Linked DNA regions of Homo sapiens: region 1 is linked to region 2. Evidence: fine-mapped expression QTL. Tissue or cell type: whole blood. Region 2 holds a variant in brackets; the other region holds the start of a gene. All regions are shown on one strand. Distances are between the middles of the regions.

The links. PIP is the estimated chance that this variant, and not a neighbour inherited with it, causes the effect.
Region 1: KIAA0232 starts here. The variant in region 2 is fine-mapped to the expression of KIAA0232 in whole blood (INTERVAL, PIP above 0.99).

What each region holds. Positions count from the first base shown.
Region 1 is chr4:6,778,251-6,786,250 of GRCh38, forward strand. KIAA0232 reads left to right here and starts at 4,477. Exons shown (of 10, transcript NM_014743.3): 1 at 4,477-4,591. RefSeq lists silencers at 3,857-4,736, 4,797-5,566.
Region 2 is chr4:6,878,583-6,889,292 of GRCh38, forward strand. It overlaps KIAA0232, which reads left to right. Exons shown (of 10, transcript NM_014743.3): 10 at 2,205-5,582. The coding sequence ends at 2,384. Among named protein-coding and RNA genes, the nearest start is that of TBC1D14, 26 kb to the right of the region's middle. The variant GGTGT/G (reference allele first, on the strand shown) is at 4,043.

The DNA of each region.
Region 1 (8,000 bases), 100 kb before region 2:
GGCGGACAAGCCCAGGAGGCGGTTCTGGGCCTTGGAGAAAAGCTGGGGTAGGGGAGAGATATTAGGTGTCCTTCCATTTTCATGTTACTTAACAGCTACTGGAGTGGAGGAGACTGCCCTAGTGGTATGCAGAATGATAAGAAAGGAGGTATAAGAAAGGAGGGATAAGAAAGGAGGGAATGGGAGGGACAGAGGAAGAGGGGGTCCTGGAGATGGGCAGTCAGAGCTAAGTAGTGGGGGCTTCAAGGAGGGATGGTCGTGGGTGCTGGTATTTATTGAGTGTTTGCTGTGTGCCGGGTACCCTCTGTGTGGATTCACTTACCCCTTCACCGCAACCCTCTGAGGCAGATACTATTATTATTATGCCCACTTTACAGATGAGGAAACTGAGAGGCTAAGTAATTTACCCACATCAGTGAGCTAATCAGCCAGTGTGCTTAATCACCGTGCTCCCCTACTTCTGGTGACATTGCTGATGACGTTGTTGATTTTCCATGGACTGGGTGGAGGGATAGAAGTGAGGAACAAATTTGGAAGCAGGAGACAACCACACCTCTGATCTGGTTTGGCCCTACAGGGATAGGCAAGCGGAACAAGGCGTTATTCCTCTGTCTTTTCCTGCACTAGGAAGCCGAAACCCTCAGAAGGTCAGGGCCTTGCTCAAGGTCAGACCATGGGGCTATGCCAGAGGCTTGAACTCTCTTTAGGCCTGGAATGATGTTACTACCCCTAAGAGAGGAGAGCCACTGAGAGGAGAGGCTGTCAGAATGCGGGTGCAGGCCTGGGGTGGTTAAGAGAGAAGGCCATGATGTGGGCCACCTTGACTGACAGCATCTGAACTGAGATGCCTAGTTAGTATCCCAAGTGAGGGTCTTGGTCCCATGGGGAGGCAATGGGGAGATTATCTGGTCAGGGTTTTATCTTGGCCTCATTCATTTAAAAGTCATCTCAGGATGGATTTTAATGATACTGTGTGGCCCAGTAGCAAGCACAGGGCTAAAATGAAATCCTGGTGCTGCCTTTTAGTAGCAGTGTGGCCTGTGCAAGCCACCTAAGTCTCCAGAGAAGCCTTGGCTTCTGTGGCTGCAAAATGGGGATCATCTCTTCCCTGCCTGGTATTGTGGGAGTTAAGGACAATGTGAGCAAAGCACTTGGCATGCACCTGGGGGTCAGTAAACAGGAGCTGGCATTGCTCGTGTCAGGTGACAGGTGAGGATTTGTATATCATTTATCAAAGTGTAGCTTCATTGAAATTTTGTTTCTAAATCTCTCTCTCTCACACACACACACACACACACAGGCACAGAACAAAGGAGATTTTTGAAATCTTCCTGCCCAAGTCCCTTGTTGTGCAGATGGGGAAACTGAGGCCCAGAGAGGGAGATTATGTACCCAAGATCACAGAGTCGAAGAGGCCTGGCCCCTGCCTGCCGTCAGTCCGTGTGCCACACGACATCACAAAGCATCCCGGACCCAGCCTCATCCCTGCTGTTCACTAAGCATACACATTACACAATCACTGCCCCAGATGGCAGCTGCTAGAATCCTCGCTAGCATCGAACATCCAAGTCAGAGGGCACTCAGAGTCGTCAGCTTCCTCCAGCATTGCCTTACCCGGCTGTAGGGGTTAAAAAGCTGTGGCAGGTGCTCCTGAGACTAGAGAAATGAAATGAATGATCTCAGACATACACAGGAGACAATGGTTTCTTCTCAGAAAATGCTGAAGGGGGAGTCTACCGCCTCCACACCAACCCTGCCTTAACGCAGGAGTCCTCTGGCCTCATTTGCATTCCCTAGGGATCTTAGCCCACAAGAGGGAGAAAGCTACTGTTCTCCTGAGTTTAAGTTGGCTGATCTCTACCCGGGAGCCTGAAGGAAGGTCGTAGGCAGCGTGGCACACTACAGGGGGTAAGGGGCTCATGCAGAAGAGCCCTGTTCCTGATTGCTCAAGGGAAGGTGGGATTGTTTTCTCCCTGATGTGCACTCTGACTACATCACAGATGATAGTTCAGTCCTGCACCTACAAACTGGCAGGCTCCGTGCTGGGCTCTGGGCATATGAAAATAAGCACCACAGGCAAAATGCCTGCTCTTGTGAGATACAGGTCTTGAGTGAGGAGGCTGAGATGAATGAGGAAACAAACATACAAACGAGATGATCTCAGATACTGATAAGAGCTGTGAATAAAGAAACAAAATATAGCAGTGGCATCATGACTGGGAAGGTTGGCTACTCCAAACTGGGCATCTAGATGTCTCTGGGCAGGTGACATCGTAGCAGGGCCTTTAACAAGAAGGAACCAGCCACGCAGAGGTCTGGGGAGGGAGTTCCTCACAGAAATCAGCAGATGCAAAGGCCCTAAGGTTGGAGTCAGCTGAGACTCCTAGGATTTTTATCAAAATAATTTGGAGGACAGGAGGCTATTTTGTTAAGAAAACAAAGTAAACAAGACACTTTCTTTCCCTAATCTGTCATCTTTCCCCACCAGCTCCAAATCCTATTAATACAAGATAATTCCTACTTAAAAACCTCTTCTTCCAAGAAGTCTTCAGGTTCTACTAGTTCATGGTAGAACTAGTATAAAAACTGGTCTGTGGCAAAGTAATAAAAAAAAAGGTCAATAAACTCTGTGTGTGTGTGTGTGTGTGTGTGTGTCACTATACAGGTGCCAACCGTGTTTCCTTTCTTCAGAACTGAGATATACTGTTATTACTTTTCAAAAAATTTTGCTGTTAATACTCTTTTGTAAAATATGATGTAGATGACAGATATGTCACCAATGTAGCAAAAATCAAAAGCTGACCATCCTTTGCAAATCCCCCATACTTTGGTCTGTGAAATCCTGGAGCCTGGAGGCACCTGTGAACTAGGCTCTGAAGCTCTGCTACTCTCCCCTCCTCTACTCCCAAGTGGCCCTGGATTTCCCATACCCTTTCCATTCTCGACACTGTTTTTAGAGTTTGAGTTCCAGGAGCACAGGGACTGTGCGTTCCCGGCACTGAGCCAGGTCCACAACAAGCACTCAGAAGAAACTGACTGAATGAACGTGTGATTTATGACGATATACATTCACCTGAGCGAATGCTCAGAGAATACAATTAGAAGCAAACTGGTTAAGGGAGACAGTAGTGTAAAGGAAACGAAACCCCATATTTCAGAGCCAGGAGCCTGGGTTCACATTCTGTCTCCTGCAAGAGGTGGTTTAGCAAGGTCAGAAGGCCCTGTCCACTCGGTAGCAGCCAGGCTTGGGTGAAATCACTTTCTTTCAGCCTCAGCTTCCTCACCAGTTAAATGCGGATGACAAAGATTTGTCCCACGATTTTTGTAAAGAACAAAAAGATATGTTCGCAGAAAAAACACTCTGTAGATAGTACGTAAGCGACAGTTCCTCGGTTTGTCCTTCCATGGATGCATGGAGCATCTAGCCAACTCAGCAGATGACCCCTCTCCAGTGTTTCAGCATCTGCTTCTCCCACAAGCCCGTGAGCTGGTGCAGGAAATTCTCCAACAGGTTCTGAACAGAAAAGCATAGTGCCTGGCACCTAGTGGGTGCTGCATAAATGAACAAATGACCCCAGGTAAGTCACTCCTCCCATTGGACCTCTTTCTTCTAAGTAATCTCCCTTCCTTTTCCAGGTCCATGATACTTATTTGCTTTTTTAGAACAGGCCTAGGAGTCACATTTAGGGAAGGTAGGTGGCTGTGAAGACACTTTGATTAAAAGGTTAATGCACATTTTTGGTTTCCACTTTCGAAGCTTCCAGAATTTATTTTTGCCTAGTTAATAAAAAAAGAGCCATGTCACATTTCTTTAGCTTGTCTTCTGGGTTCCTTAACAACAACAACAAAAAATTAAAGTCTTTATTTTAAGCCGCCTACTCCAGCCATCCCAGGACGCGGCGAGGAGGGGGCGCGGACAGGTGGCGCGCGAGCCCGGGAAGGCGGGGGCTGCACCGGGCCGCGGGCGGGGCCGTGCACGCCGAGCCCCACTTCCCCAGCGCGGGCCGGGGGCGGGGCGCGGCGGCAGAGTTCGGGGGCTTCTGCCGAGGGCAGTCCCACGTGCCCCTCCGCGGGAGACGTCTCCTCTCCGACGCCCAGCACGCTGGGGGGCTCCCGCTTCCTGCCTGCCCTCTCTACTGCTTGCCCTCTCACCTCCCAGCGGCTTCCGCCGCCCCGGCCAAGCTGCACGGCGCGTCCCGGGCCCTAGACCCCCACCCGCCAGGCACCAGCCCCGGCCTGTCCCCTCGCGCCGTCAGCCCGCGGCCCACCGCCCGCGCGCGCCCGCAGCCCAGCCGGAGGGAGGGGCAGGGGCGGGGACCGGCCGGCGCTGATGTAATCCCGGCACCCGGGCGGAAGGATATGGAGCGCGCCCCTGGTTGGCGGGGCGCTGAGGCCAGTTGCCGGGTAACGGAGCGGAGCGGCTCCCGGCGCGCCGCCTCCCGCCCTCCGCGGAGTGGCGCTGGGGCCGCCGCCGCCGCTTTACGTAAGGCGCAGGCCAGGGCCGCCCGGCGCTCGGCAGCCGCCCGCAGCCCCTCGGAGCCAGAGGAGAGGCGCCCCCGCCGGCCGCCGCGCCGCCCGGCAGCCTCGGCAGGTACTGCGGGCAGGCGGCGGGGAGGGAGGGCGCGGAGCAGCCCCTCGGCCGGGTGGGCGCGGGCCGGGGAGGCCGGACGCTCGCCGCCGTGGGGCTCCGGGGCCAGCCCGAGGGAGGCCGGGCCGCAGCCGAAGGCTTCGGGGTCAGCCCAAGGGAGACAGGGCCGCCGCCGTGGGCTCTGGGGCCAGCCTAAGGGAGGCCGAGCCGCCGCCGAGGGCTCCGGGGCCAGCCTGAGGGAGACCGGGCCGCCGCCGGGGGCTCCGGGGCCAGCCTGAGGGAGGCCGGGCCGCCGCTGATGGCTCCGGGGCCAGCCTAAGGGAGACCGGGCCGCTGTTGATGGCTCCGGGGCCAGCCGAGGGAGGCCTGACCGGCCCCGATCCTGGTGGTGCCCGGGCGTGCGGGTGAGCTGTGGGCCCTGGGACCCCCGCCCCGACCCCAGGACGCCGGGACACCAGCTTGCGGCTCTTGCGCCCGGGTGGGCTGTGGACGATGAGTCCGCACAATGGGTTGCCGTTGGCTGCCTCCTGCCTGGGGCAGGTGTCGCCGCGCCGGGGCGGCTCTTCTAGGGGAGACGAGGCGGGGGTGCTTAGACTTGATAGGACGTAGAGCCCCGAAAGTGGGCGCGGGAGGAAGGCTTCGGCCGGTGGGAGGCGCCCGGCGTCCCCGGCAGCGGGGTCAGGCCGGCAGCCTGGGCCGCTCGCTCGCGTTCCCTCCGTTCCCCTCCCCTCCAGCATTGTCCTTTTGGGGCCCCGGGAAGGGAAAACCGCCGGGCGGGGGAGGAGGGCCGCAGGCGGGCGGGGCCGGGAGGCCGGCTGAGCGACTGGCGCGCCGGCCTATGGCGCGGGGCGCGGCGCGGGGGGCGGGCCTGGCGGGCGGGGCCGGTGCGGCGCAAGGTTTGGCGAAGGTTACAGCTGGAGCTAGGAGTGACAGGCCCACAGTCATCCGTGCGCTGCGCGGCAAACCCTGTCGCGAGGGCGCCCCGAGTTGCTGCGGGGCCTGATCCGGCTCCTTTCCAACAATACGCGTCTGCAGCCGGCATTTCTAGAGCTCTCTGCTTCTTCCCGCTGGAGAAACCAGTGTGTGTCGTGTTGGAATGCTTCGTCTTGCCCTAGAATTCAGCTTGCGTCTTGTGGTGCGCAGGTGACAGGACCTGCCGAACTCTTGGTACAGACCCCTAAATCATGGCAGAACTGTCTTGATTTCTTTTTTGCCACCTTTCCGTTTTTGTCCTCTATAGGCAAGCTATAAAGATTTAACCCAGTTAAAAACAGGAGGGAGATTCAGCGGAGAGGAGGCATGCGAGATTCTTTGGAAAAAATTATATAAATGTAGTTCTTGCTAATAATTACCTGGGTTGGATACTTTGACTTACTGTTCAAGTTCCTAAGAAGGGATTTTACATTTCTGGGTCTTGTTTTAAAAACTGTTAGAAAGCTCGTGAGGGGGTAGGGACAAGCAGTTTTGGTAATAGGCGATGCTGTGGATAAAACTGTGCGGTAAAATGCCCAAGCTAGATTCTTCCTATGCAAAATAAGACCCGTTCCAGAACACTTTGACCATTTCGTGGACTTAGAATTTAAAGGCGGGTGAGGGCGGGGGGGGAGGAGGAGCGGATTCTATCACTCTGCATCCTCAAGGTCAAATATTCTTCCATCAGTTATTTTGGATTGAACCATTCTTAAATAGGTCTCAGGATCTCTATGTCGCTTCCTTATGACAGAACCTATTTCCGAGAGTGTGCCTTTGCATATCTATAGAAGCTCCTTTCACTTAATATATCTTATAACTCAGATTCAATTGCTGTACTTGCTAAATAATGCATTTTTAATCATTCAAAAAGTGGTTTACAGCTTCCTTGGGTATAATGGTTTTTATGTAAGCCCGTTACATCAGTGAAATGCCAGTTTTTAAACATTGAAGGGAAGGGAGAATATTATTCTTATTTATTTCCATAGGAAGTAGAATTCAAAGTGCAGGTGCTTTTTTGTTTGCTTTGGAGAAAAAGTATAGGTCTTTAACATGACGTTAACAGAAGTCAAATCTAAGGATAATTAGCTTGTTATGCAAGTTGCAAACATTTAAGAAGATCAGATGAATTTTTTTTTTTTTTTTTTTTGAGACGGAGTCTCGCTCTGCCGCCCAGGCTGGAGTCCGCGATCTCGGCTCACTCACTGCAACCTCCGCCCGCCGGGTACAAGCGAGTCTCCTGCCTCAACCTCCCGAGTAGCTGGGACTACAGGTGCATGCCACCACCCCCGGCTAATTTTTTGCATTTTTAGTAGAGATGGGGCTTCACCGTGTTAGCCAGGATGGTCTTTCTCTCCTGACCTCGTGATCCGCCTGCCTCAGCCTCCCAAAGTGCTGGGATTACAGGCGTGAGCCACCGCGCCTGGCTGATTAGATGGATTTTTAACACTTCCAGTGGTAATATAGGGTAATGTAGCTAGCCTACTCTGTGCTATGTTGTACGGTAGCACTCTTCAAAAGAAATTAGATTGTTCTTGTTCTTTATTTTTCATTGTGTGGAAAAGTGCTGAGCCTGCGCTTTGTCCTTGTTTTTGTAGCATTTGACTTGGCAGTTAATGGCTTGTGAGCTAATTTCCTCATCTGTAGAATGGGAAGATTGATGACACCTGTTTCACAGAATAGTTGGGATGATCACTTGAGGGAAGACGTGAAATGTCGTCAAGACTCAAACCCTTTAAAAATACTCGCCTAGTGTAAGTGTTAAAACCTCAGATTACTTGCTTTGCTTAAAGTTTTTAACTTTGTCTTCAGGCTCCTCGCCACCCCTTCCTATCCATTCTTTGCCTGGCTGCCAGAGTCATCTTTCCTGAGCTCAGATCTTGTCAGTCTCTGGCTCAGTAGGCTTCTAAGACTGCCTGTGGTTTGGAGCTTAGAATTCAGAGATACCAGCATCACAATGCAGGCCCCTTGCAGTCTGGCCCCCAGTCATCTCTGTACTTTATCTTGTCCTCTTTGTCCCCTTTCCACACTGTCCAGCTAAACAAGACTGCTCTTGGTTCTCTGAACATGCCAAGCTATTTCAGACCTTCTTTGCTTATATTCTTTTCTCTTATTGGAATGTCCTGTCTCACTCCCACTCCCTCCAGTTCTTAAAAGTTCATATCAAATATTCTGTTCTCTCTGGAGTCCTTTGGAAGTCCTATTACAATGAATTATTCCTTTCCTCAATCATAGTTCTCTATTTTTCCTTCATTATTGTCTATATCATGTTGTATTATAAATTGGTCATAGTAAACTCTGGCTGTGGTGTCTATCCTATCATTTTGCCCCCAACACCTTGCTCAGGCGTTTAAACATAAGTGCTTAATGTTAAATGTAAGTGTTTAAATGTTTGCTAAATAAAGTCAAAGTCTGTAATCAACCTTAAAGAGTATGTTAATAT
Region 2 (10,710 bases):
GGTATTGATGACTACCTTCTTCTACTACCCATTCTGTATTCCCTTTGCCTTCAGCAAGCACCTCAGCAGGTTGTGGTTTTTTCCCGGTGGAGTGACCTAAACCTTCATTCCTAAAGAGTCTGAGCCATTTGTATCCTGTCTGGACTGGGCTGTTGTAGTTTCCCGTTAACTTGAATCACACGGCATGTGATCAAGTTGACACTCAGTATTAACCATCTGTCAGTGTCCATTCAAGTCCTGTGAGAACTGTCTGCCCAAGCACCTGTAGCATCATCGTCCACGTCCTGCTGCCCACTGACCTGTCCGGCTCCACACATGAAGGCAGATGTTTGAGGCCCCCACCAGCTCTCTCCTCAGTGACTAGTTCACATCATCCCTCCAGCCTCAAACCCCAAACTGAGACATATTCCCCAGTCCTCTCTCTCATCTTCCACACACAGTCTGCCTGCCAGTCCTGACCGTTCCCCGCTGTCAGCCACTTCGCATCTCCCACTTCTCCTCCTCTCCATCATTACCACTTTGTTCAAGCCACTGTCCCTGCTCCTGAACAGCTGCCATGGTCTTTTCATTGTCCTTCCTGCTTTCGTCATCCTTTCCAGCCTTCTCTCCACACAGCAGACAGAATGACCTCACGAGCAGTATCTTGTTCAGTCCTCACAACGACCCTGTGAGGTAGGTACTGTTGTCATGCCTGTTCTGCAAAATAGGAAAGTGAAGCACAAAAACATCAGGCGCCGTGTATCCGAGGCCAGAGAGCCACAGCTTCAGTGTGGACCTGAACTCTGAACCTCAGCAGTCTGCCTCTAGGACCCATACTGCTAACCATGATGTCACTTTGCTGTTGCATTTGAGACAGATCCAAACTCCCCGCCACGCCTCTACAGCCCTGTATGTTTTGCCCCCGTCTGCCTTTGACCTCATCTGTCTCTGCTCTCCCCTTACTCTGTGTGGCTTTTCTGTGCTTCTGCCTCAGGGGTTCTCAACCAGGGGCAATGCTGCCATTTGGAAATGAGGTGGGAGTGCTGCTAGTTACTATGGCAGGGTGAGGGGAGCTTTGTAATGACTGTGACTGAGGAGGGGCCACCACTGCATCTCATGTCCTGGGGTCCAGAGATGCTGACCATCTGGTGTAGGGGAGACAGTCCGACACCACAGAGTGTTGGCACCTCTGCATGGCTGGCTTCTCAGCTGAGCGGGCCTCTTCTCCAAAGAACTCCCTTCCCAACACACCCATCTGCAGTGCCCCCCCTCACCATCTGTACTGTGTCACTGCAAACTCCCTTCCCAACACACAGGTCTGCAGTGTCCCCTCACCATCTGTACTGTGTCACTGCAAACTCCCTTCCCAACACACCCGTCTGCAGTGCCCCCTCACCATCTGTACTGTGTCACTGCAAACTCCCTTCCCAACACACAGGTCTGTAGTGTCGCCTCACCATCTGTACTGTGTCACTGCAAACTCCCTTCCCAACACAGAGGTCTGCAGTGTCCCCTCACCATCTGTACTGTGTCACTGCAAACTCCCTTCCCAACACACAGGTCTGTAGTGTCGCCTCACCATCTGTACTGTGTCACTGCAAACTCCCTTCCCAACACAGAGGTCTGCAGTGTCCCCTCACCATCTGTACTGTGTCACTGCAAACTCCCTTCCCAACACAGAGGTCTGCAGTGTCCCCTCACCATCTGTACTGTGTCACTGCAAACTCCCTTCCCAACACACAGGTCTGTAGTGTCGCCTCACCATCTGTACTGTGTCACTGCAAACTCCCTTCCCAACACACCCGTCTGCAGTGCCCCCCTCACCATCGGTACTGTGTCACTGCAACTGGCACATGTTGGTTTGCTCGTTCATCTCCCCAGCGAGCCTGGCATGCGCCTTCCACTGCTGGAGTCCCTGTGCCCAGTAAAGTTCCTGGTGCATAGCAGGTACTCAAAGACTTTGAAAATGAAATAATTCTTTATCCTACCCTAACATGGCTAACATTTTGTCCAAGTGACTGAACATGTGGAATTAGGATTTTGGATCCTTCATGGATCAGAGAAGAGAGGCGGTTTTGCTCTGAAACAGTAAAACTCTGCATGTTTGTAACTCCACAGGAAAACACTGATGATTTATTATTTCTTCTTTGTATATAGATAGAGTATCTCACCCTTTTGGGGAAAAAAAAGTCTTTTTGATGTGTTGAAAATTGTTTTAATCTTAGGTGTCTTCTGTTTATGAAGCAAGATGTACAGGAGAGAGAGATTCTGGAGCAAAGTCAGATGGCTTCCGCGGAAAGATGTGCTCCAGCGCCAGCTCCACCTCGGAAGAGACAGGCTCAGAAGGCGGAGGCGAGTGGGTGGGCCCTAGTGAAGAGGAGCTCTTTTCTCGAACTCATCTCTAAACCTGCAAAATAGTACAAATTATTGTTTAAAAATGATATGTGATGGAAAATTACTCTTCAGTGAGACCTGTTAATCTAAAACAACAACTTAGGTTTCCTCTTCAATTAACTGATTCAGATTGGTAATAATTATCTTTCTCTTCTTGCTTATTTTAGAGTTGAGGACAGCTATCCTGTTAAAGATTTTTTTTCCCAGCTGTTAAATTCTTGGCTATTTGAAATAGACTAGATTGTGTTGTCAAATCAAGAATGGGTGTGCATGTGCTTGTCTTAGAAGTATCACTGCTTTTTGCATCTTAACTGCAGTTAATTTTCCTTCCGACTGCGGTTATATCACTATGACCTTACTAGCATTGCAGTGTCAACAACCACTTCTGCTCTTCAGAGACTTCAGCTTTGGAGCATTTAGGCTTTGTTCTCCAAGAACTGGGATATCCATTCTTACCCTACAGTGGCTTGATGCCTTTCTGAAGGCGAGAGGGAAGCCTGGGTGACTCAGCGGTGGTCTCCATTCAGCAAAATCTCATGTACATTTCCAGTAGGAACCGCAGAGGTGTGCTTTTCAAGACTCACCAAATACTGTGTTTTCTCTCTTAGGATTTCTTTTCCCCTAAAGTATCACGGAAGATACTATGGTTCGTGACTTTCTTGCTAACTGAAGAAGCCAAGGATTTGGGGTGTGGGGTCGTATGCGAGACACAGTGGGGTAAGGGTGCATACCCCACCCCTTACCTGCTCTCATACTGCAGTTACATTTACACCAAAACCCCATGCAGGGTTCTTTGTGGTGAGTGTTCCATACGTGCTAAGGACCTTAGTTACAGATTGTTACTTTCTGGTGACCTATGTTGAATTGAAACCCCCAAAACTTGAAATTGTGAACATTTGACATGCAGTAAAGGCCACCTCATCACCCAGAGAAATCTTTGGCTGCTGCAGCTAGCCGCTTCTTGGCTGTGATGTAGTATAGCTTCGATCTCATTTTGTGTTTGAGAGAATGTTCTGGGCAAGTTCTGTGTGTGGTGGGTTGGGGCGGGTAGAGTCATGAGTTTTCCACATCCCTGTGTGGTGGTTTTGCTGACTGTCGCTCCGTGGGACTGGCTCCCGTTTCTCCTTGGTGAGCCCGGGGAGCCGGCGCATCTTGTGAGTCGCGTCTGTGCATGGCGATCCGCTCCTCCGGCTCTCATGGCATTGTGCCACAGGCAGAGGCCAGGAGGAGCAGTATGTGCACAGCCGAAACATTTTACATTTTTTACATTGTTTTTCTTTTTTAACCAACTCATTGTTTAAAAAACAAAAACAAAAAAAACCTAATCTGTGAAATCAGCGTAGCATGCCTGGAGCATCAGGAATGGCAGAAAAGTCTGATGCGCTCTAGACAGCTTCACCACTCATTTGGGCAGGCAGTAAACACACATATAATTTATTAGCTGGGAGCTGAACTGGCTGTGAAATCTATGATTTGCTTTGAACATTTGGGTTTTGTTGCCTTTTTCTTAATTGATAACACAGAAAAGAAAGTACCATCAAAGACTGTGGAGTCATTGAGGGTCTGTGTGTCCTCACCGAGAGGGACCTGGTGTGCCCGCCGGGTCGATCTTCCCACGTGTTAGGGTTTATTTTTATACAACACATTTTTTGACACTTTAAGGTGGGTG[GGTGT/G]GTGTGTGTGTGTGTGTGTGCGCGCGTGCGCGCGCGCATGTGTAAGGTTTTATGTTGCTGTTATTTATTTACGAACTTCAGATACGTTTTTATGTATTTTTCATTCTTCTGGAGCTTCCTAAAAATTGATAAGCATCTGCACTGAAATATAATTTAACAGCAAAAGTAAAAAAGGATTGAAAGTTGTAAATTCCTCATATCACTACAGTGACGATTATTCTAGAAATCGTTGCTTGTGTAGCAAAGACCAAATAAATAGATTTCAGACACAACCTTGAGCACAGTTGATTTTGGACAGCTGCTGTTTATTAGGAAAGGGCTCCAGGTGGCAAAGGTGCACACTTCCTCAGACACAGGTGAGAAGATGCAGCACCTTCCACAGGTGAATGGGACGGATTCGAAGTGAGCAAAGGGATTCACAAATTATGTATTTATTTGTTTTCATAGTTAAGTAGCTGAAGCTCAGAGGCTTTCAGCAACAGAGATGAAAGTGTGGCTTTTTAGTTTTGTGAATGGATGATCACAAAGAAAAAGCATTTTTAAAAAGTTGGCAAACGCTGAAACGCACTGTGGTATGAAGCGCATTGCATTTCCATAGCACTGAAGTACCAGTTTCCATTCCTGGGCTGAGATTGTTTTTCCCGTGGTTGTATTGTTCTGATTTCACGTACACCAGAGTAACTGATTTTTTTTTGTTTGTTTTCTTGTGGAGTTAACACCAAATAAAAATTGTAAAAAACAGTTTGTTGTTTTTATTTCTCATAGCAAAGCTTCTTTTGTAAAGAACTCCAGCTTCCTTTTACTCATGAGCATCCGTGGAAGAGCAAGTGCCCAGGTTACATTTGTTCTAGATGGAGGTCATTTAGCTCTCATTGCAGACACTGCTGAAAACATTGTGCAGCTTTGCTAGGGAAGAAAGTGGTGTGGCCTGCTGAGAAATCAGCGGCTCCTCCCCATCTCACCCCCAGCACACGCAGGGACTACTACCTGAGTCTGCAAAACACATAGCATTTTTGTCCGTGGATGGTACACAAAGCTCAATCTTTTTGTTTTCTTCTGGGGAAAAAATTAAATCTTTATATGTTAATATGATTGATATTCATTGTGCAAAAAAAATCAGTGTGTTTTTAAAGAAGTATAAGGGAAAAGGAAAACTCATATGTCCTTCTGTCACTCTGAGACATACACTGGTAACATCTGTGCAAGCCCCTTTCCAGGATTCTGAATGTACAGTATATATGAATGCATACACAGAGAAATTTACATTCAAGAGTGTACTATACTTGTTCTTCTATAACATCAGAAATAGGTTTTTACTCAGATGTCTTCATGTCGGTAATTATAGAACTACATAATTATTTTTATAGCTGTATTATGTAGATTTAACAGGTTCCTCATTGATAAAACAATGTTTTTTTGGTTGTTTATTCAGTATCTGAATAACGTTTCTATGGACATCTGTAAACATGTATGAGGGGACTTTTAAAAGTTCATGGAAAATGGAATTAAAAGAAAAATAAAAAAATATAAACTTTATTTCTCAACATAAGTTCCATCAAGTTCAAGATACTACTATAAGACATAATACCAACCATTCAGTCTATCCCTAAAGAACTGAGGCTCCTGGAAATTTCACCTTGTCAGTGTAGTCTCTGCATTGTGAACTGAAGAGAAATGGGTGCCCTTTACAGCTTTTTAAGATTAGGAAACAAAAAGTCAGAAGAAGCCCAATCAGGACTGCAAAGTGGATGCCTGATGATTTCCCATCAAAACTCTTGGAAAATGGCTCTCGTTTGCTGAGAGGAATGAGCAGGAGGAGCACTGTCATGGTGGAAAAGGGCTCTGGTGAAACTTTCCTAGGCATTGTTCTGCCACAGCTTTGGCTAACTTTCTCAAAACACTCGTCATAAGCAGATGTTAACATTCTTTGGGCATCTGGAAAGTCAGCACATACACAGTGCTTTGAGCATCCCAGAAAATGGTTGCCTGGCCTCTGCTTTTGACCAGTCTGCATTTGCTATGAGGAGACCCCTCCCACCTCTCGGTAGCCAGTGCTGTGATCACAATCACATTGTCTTCAGGATTGTGCTGGTAAAGCCATGTTCCATCTCCTGTTACAGTTCTCAGAGGAAATGCTTTAGGATGTTGATTCCTCTTGTTGAAAGTTTCCCCTGAAAGCTCTGCTGCTGTCTCCAGCTGATCTGAGTGCAGTGGTTTGGTAGCCATTGAGTGGCAAGTTTGCTCAACGTTAATTTTTCAGTCAGATCGTGTAAGCTGAACCATCTGAGGTGTCTGTGGTGTTGGGTGTTGTTTCTGCTGTTAATCATTGGTCCTCTTTGATTCAGGCATGAATAAGATTAATTTTTTCCTCACAAATTGATGAGGAGGTCTTCACCATTGTCTCATCCCTTCTTAAAACAAGTTACCCATTGGCAAACCTCTGATTTTGGCTGGGGGCGGGGCATTGTCCCCATAAGCTTTTTTGTAAAAAAATCATTGATTTTGGGCCAGGTGTGGTGGCTCACGCTTGTATTCCTAGCACTTTGGGAGGCTGAGGTGGGTGGATCACGAGGTCAGGAGATCGAGACCATCCTGGCCAACATGGTGAAACCCTGTCTTTATTAAAAATACAAAAAAATTAGCCAGGCGTGGTGGCATGTGCCTGTAGTCCCAGCTACTCAGGAGGCTGAGGCAAGAGAATTGCTTGAACCTGAGAGGCGGAAGCTGCAGTGAGCCGAGATCACGCCACTGCACTCCAGCCTGGGCAACAGAGCGAGACTCTGTCTCAGGAAAAAAAAAAAAAAAAATCACTGATCTCACCATTCTTCCACCCAAGCATCACCATAAATTTGATGTCCTTGCTTCCATTTTTAGCAGAATTCATGTTGCTCTGATAGGTGCTCTTTTCAAACAGTCATACCCTTCTTAGTGCCTCAAAGTAGATCTTAAGACATGTTATAACAAGTTAGTACAAGTTTATTTTGGTGCAAAAAATTTTTGAAATCTGTGCATAGCTCCTTTTTGGAGACAGTCTCACTGTGTCACCTAGGCTGGAGTGCAGTGGCATGATCACTGTCATCTCAAACTCCTGGGCCTAGTGATCCTCCTGCCTCAGCCTCCCTAATAGCTGGGACTATAAGCACACCTCACCATGCCCAGCTCATTTTTTAATTTTTTGTAGGAACAGGGTTGCCCAGGCTGGTCTCAATTACTTGGCCTCAATCCATCCTCCTCACCTCAGCCTCCCAAAGTGCTGGGATTACAGGCCTGAGCCATTGCACCTGGCAATAGCACAGGCCCTAAAGGATGTAGTTGGCCCACCCCCCAACACCATTTTTAAAGTCCTTACCCCACCGATTTGCAGGAGTGCAGTGATGTCATCTCGGTTCACTGCAGCCTCCACCTCCCGGAGCTCAGGCAGTCCTCCCCTCTCGGGCCAGGAATTCTGACACCACAGCTAAGTATTTTTAGAACAGCCCGGGGTGGAGTGTAAAGGCTTCTGCCTTTTTCACTGAAAGTGCTCTGGCCACTGCCCTGTGTGCCTGCTGCTGCTGCCACTACAGATGCCACTCTGGCCATGAGTGGCTGTGGCAGTGCCCAGGAGGCCTGCATCTACCAGCAGTCCAGGAACAGAAAGGAAGCCCCTGCCCCTGGTTCCTCTTGAAAGCAGCCAGTCGGATGGCGTCACAAGCTGGCCACTGTTGTGAACGCAGAGATTAGGAAATGAGCTGTCGTTTCAGAGCCCGCTGCTAGCCTTGTGCCACTGGTGTGGTTAATTAATAGCATGTTCAGGGACGGTTGCCTCAATTATCAAGCTGGTAATGATGCTGCCACCTAACGTTTGGTTGGCGTTGCTATTGTCTGTGCTAGTCATAGTCAACAGCTGACACTGAGGGCTTACTGGCTGCCACGCATTCTAAGCGCTCTTGAGTGTTAACTAGCAACCCTATGAGGGAGCTACAGCTGCTCTGTTTTACAGATGAGTAAACTGAGGCACAATGGGGCATTAGGCACTTGCAGTCTCACACTTGGTGGATGCTGGAGCCCGAATTCACCTTGGGCACTGACTGCAGAGTCCATTTAACACTGAAACCTCCATCTCACAAAATCCCACTCATTAAGTTACGTATTGTCTCTGGGCACGGTGGCTCATGCCTGTTAACCCAGCACTTTGGGAGGCCAAGGTGGGCGGATCACCTGAGGTCAGGAGTTCCGAGACCAACCTGGCCAACATGGTGAAACCCCGTCTCTACTAAAACTACAAAAATTAGCCAGGCATAATGACAGGCGCCTGTAATCCCAGCTACTCCGGAGGCTGAGGCAGGAGAATCACTTGAACCCGGGAGGCAGAGGTTGTGGTGATCTGAGATCGCGCCACTGCACTCCAGCCTGGGTGACAGCAAGACTCCGTCTCAAAAAAAAAAGTTATGTATTGTCTGCGTACTTGCAGGGAGTCCTGCTGTGTCAGCCCCGGCTGTGTGTCCTTGGGCGAGTTACTCAGTCTCACACGTTGGTATCTTTAGATGTAAATGGAGATCATAACTGGACCTCTCTCCTAAGGGTTGGTTATAAACATAAAATAGTCCATCTGCATAAATACTAGAGTGCAAACTAAAAAGTACCTGAGACAGACCTCAATTAATTTAGAAGTGTATTTTGCCAAGACTCAGGACACACCTGAGAGAGAGAGGTCTGTGCCTTTCTCCAAAGATGATTTTGAGAGCTTCTGTATTTAAAGGGGAAAAGTGGGCTGGAGGGGGAAGGGGGAGGGTGTGGTCACACGACTGAATCCACAGGTTGCGAGAGAAAAGGAGCAGGTAGGGGAGTAGTCAATTAGGTATTTGACTTGTACGCACTAAATCCTCACTTTACGTAAGATACAGTGAACACAGAGTAGCTACCTGTGGAGATAGCTGGCCTTTTTGTTTTGTTTTGTTTTTTGGACAGGATCTCACGCTTACCCAGGATGGAGTGCAGTGGCGTGATCTCGATCTTGGCTCACTGCAGCCTCAGCCTCCCGAGTAGCTGGAACCACAGGTGTGCGCCACCACACCCAGCTAATTTTTGTATTTTTTGTAGACAGAGGTTTCACCATGCTGCCCAGGCTGGCCGTGAATTCTTGGGCTCAAGCAATGCTTCCACCTCGGCCTTTCAAAGTGCTGGGATTACAGTCGTGAAGCCACCGTGCCTGGCCTGTCTGGCCCTTTCGCTGTAGCTATCTGCTTAAGAACATAAGGAAACGCAGCTTCTTGCATGAGTCTATTCTCATCTTAAGTATTTCCTTTTAGCACAGTGAATTACGGTCCCACGTTTTTATTTTCCTTTCACACTGGACTCAAAAAAAGCAAAAACGGAAATGCAAAAGAGAAGTTGCAGCACTGAGTCCAGTAACTAAGGAGACAGTTGCCTCTTTGCAGGCGGTCTCTCACTCCCTGCCCTCCCCCCTGTGCTAGCAGAGCCCTTTAAGGGCCCTTGTTGGATCTGCAGCTCCAGGCCTGCCTAGTCAGCGGGGGTCAGCAGGGGTCAGCCCCACAGAGGCCATTCATCCTTGAGTGCTGACCACAGTGCTGTCACCATGATCTCGCCCTGAAGGGAGGTCACGCTATCCCTTCGACACAGGAGACCAACTCCTTTGGCTGTCCTTGGCTCCCAGTGGTGGCTGAACCAGAGGGCAGGGGCCAGGGCAGCAGCAGAGCCAAGTGTGCCCACTGGGGCCGAGGGCTCTGGCCACCACGTCCGTTGGGGAGGATGGTGGGGAGGGCCCTGGCCTTGCAGCGAGGGGGCAGGCACACGGTCTCCCACTTCCTATCACAGTCCAGGGGTGGGGAGGACCCCACCCTCTGGCCCTGTCACAGGTGGGGACAGTGACCCTCCCCTTCCAGGTGAGGCTACATTTTGAGGCTGAGGAGCACACGAAATGCTGGTCCTCAGCAGCGCTAAGGCCAGGAGCCCCTGATGTGTGAGTTTGTGTGGGGATGTTGCCCCTGAGGAGGGGTGATAGGAAGAGCCCCCTCCTCGTGAGCTGTGACCCTGAGCCAGTGGCTCTCTCAACTGTGAGATGGGGACCCTTCTCCCTCCCAGGGCTAGGGGAGGAGAACTGGCAGGCAAAGTGTCCGCTCATTTCCCTGAATAGAATACAGGCTCCCTCCTGAGGGTTTCTTGCCGTCCCCACGTGGTCCCTCCCAGCCCTCACAGTGGGCACCAGCAGTGCTGTCCCTCCTGCCCGGGGCCCTAGAGGGAGGAGGAAGACGTGAGTCCTGGGACTGGGCAGGGAGACAGGTCAGTCCCCGCTCCACGAGTTCCTGGAGCCCTCGGGTCTACCCTGCTCTGACCGAGCTGCTATGGGTAGAGCAGATCTACCTACGGCCCATCATCTCTGCGTCTTTCCCAGCAGTCTCAGGGTGTCTGTCACCGAGGCTGAGAACCCAAAGTTCTGGCCCAGGAGCACCCGGCAGAGGTGTGAGCCGGGGTCTGCCGATGGCTCATCTGATTCCCAAGTGCAGTGCTGCTTTCCCACTACCGTGGCCTCCACAAACCAGCGCTGTGCCCCCGCTACCGCCGCCACTCCCAGGGGGCCAAGTCCCACACCTTCAGACCCTCAAGACGGGAGCCGGAAGCCACCGCGGAACTAAAGTCTGGGAACCCCCCTTGGGGCGCTCAGGAT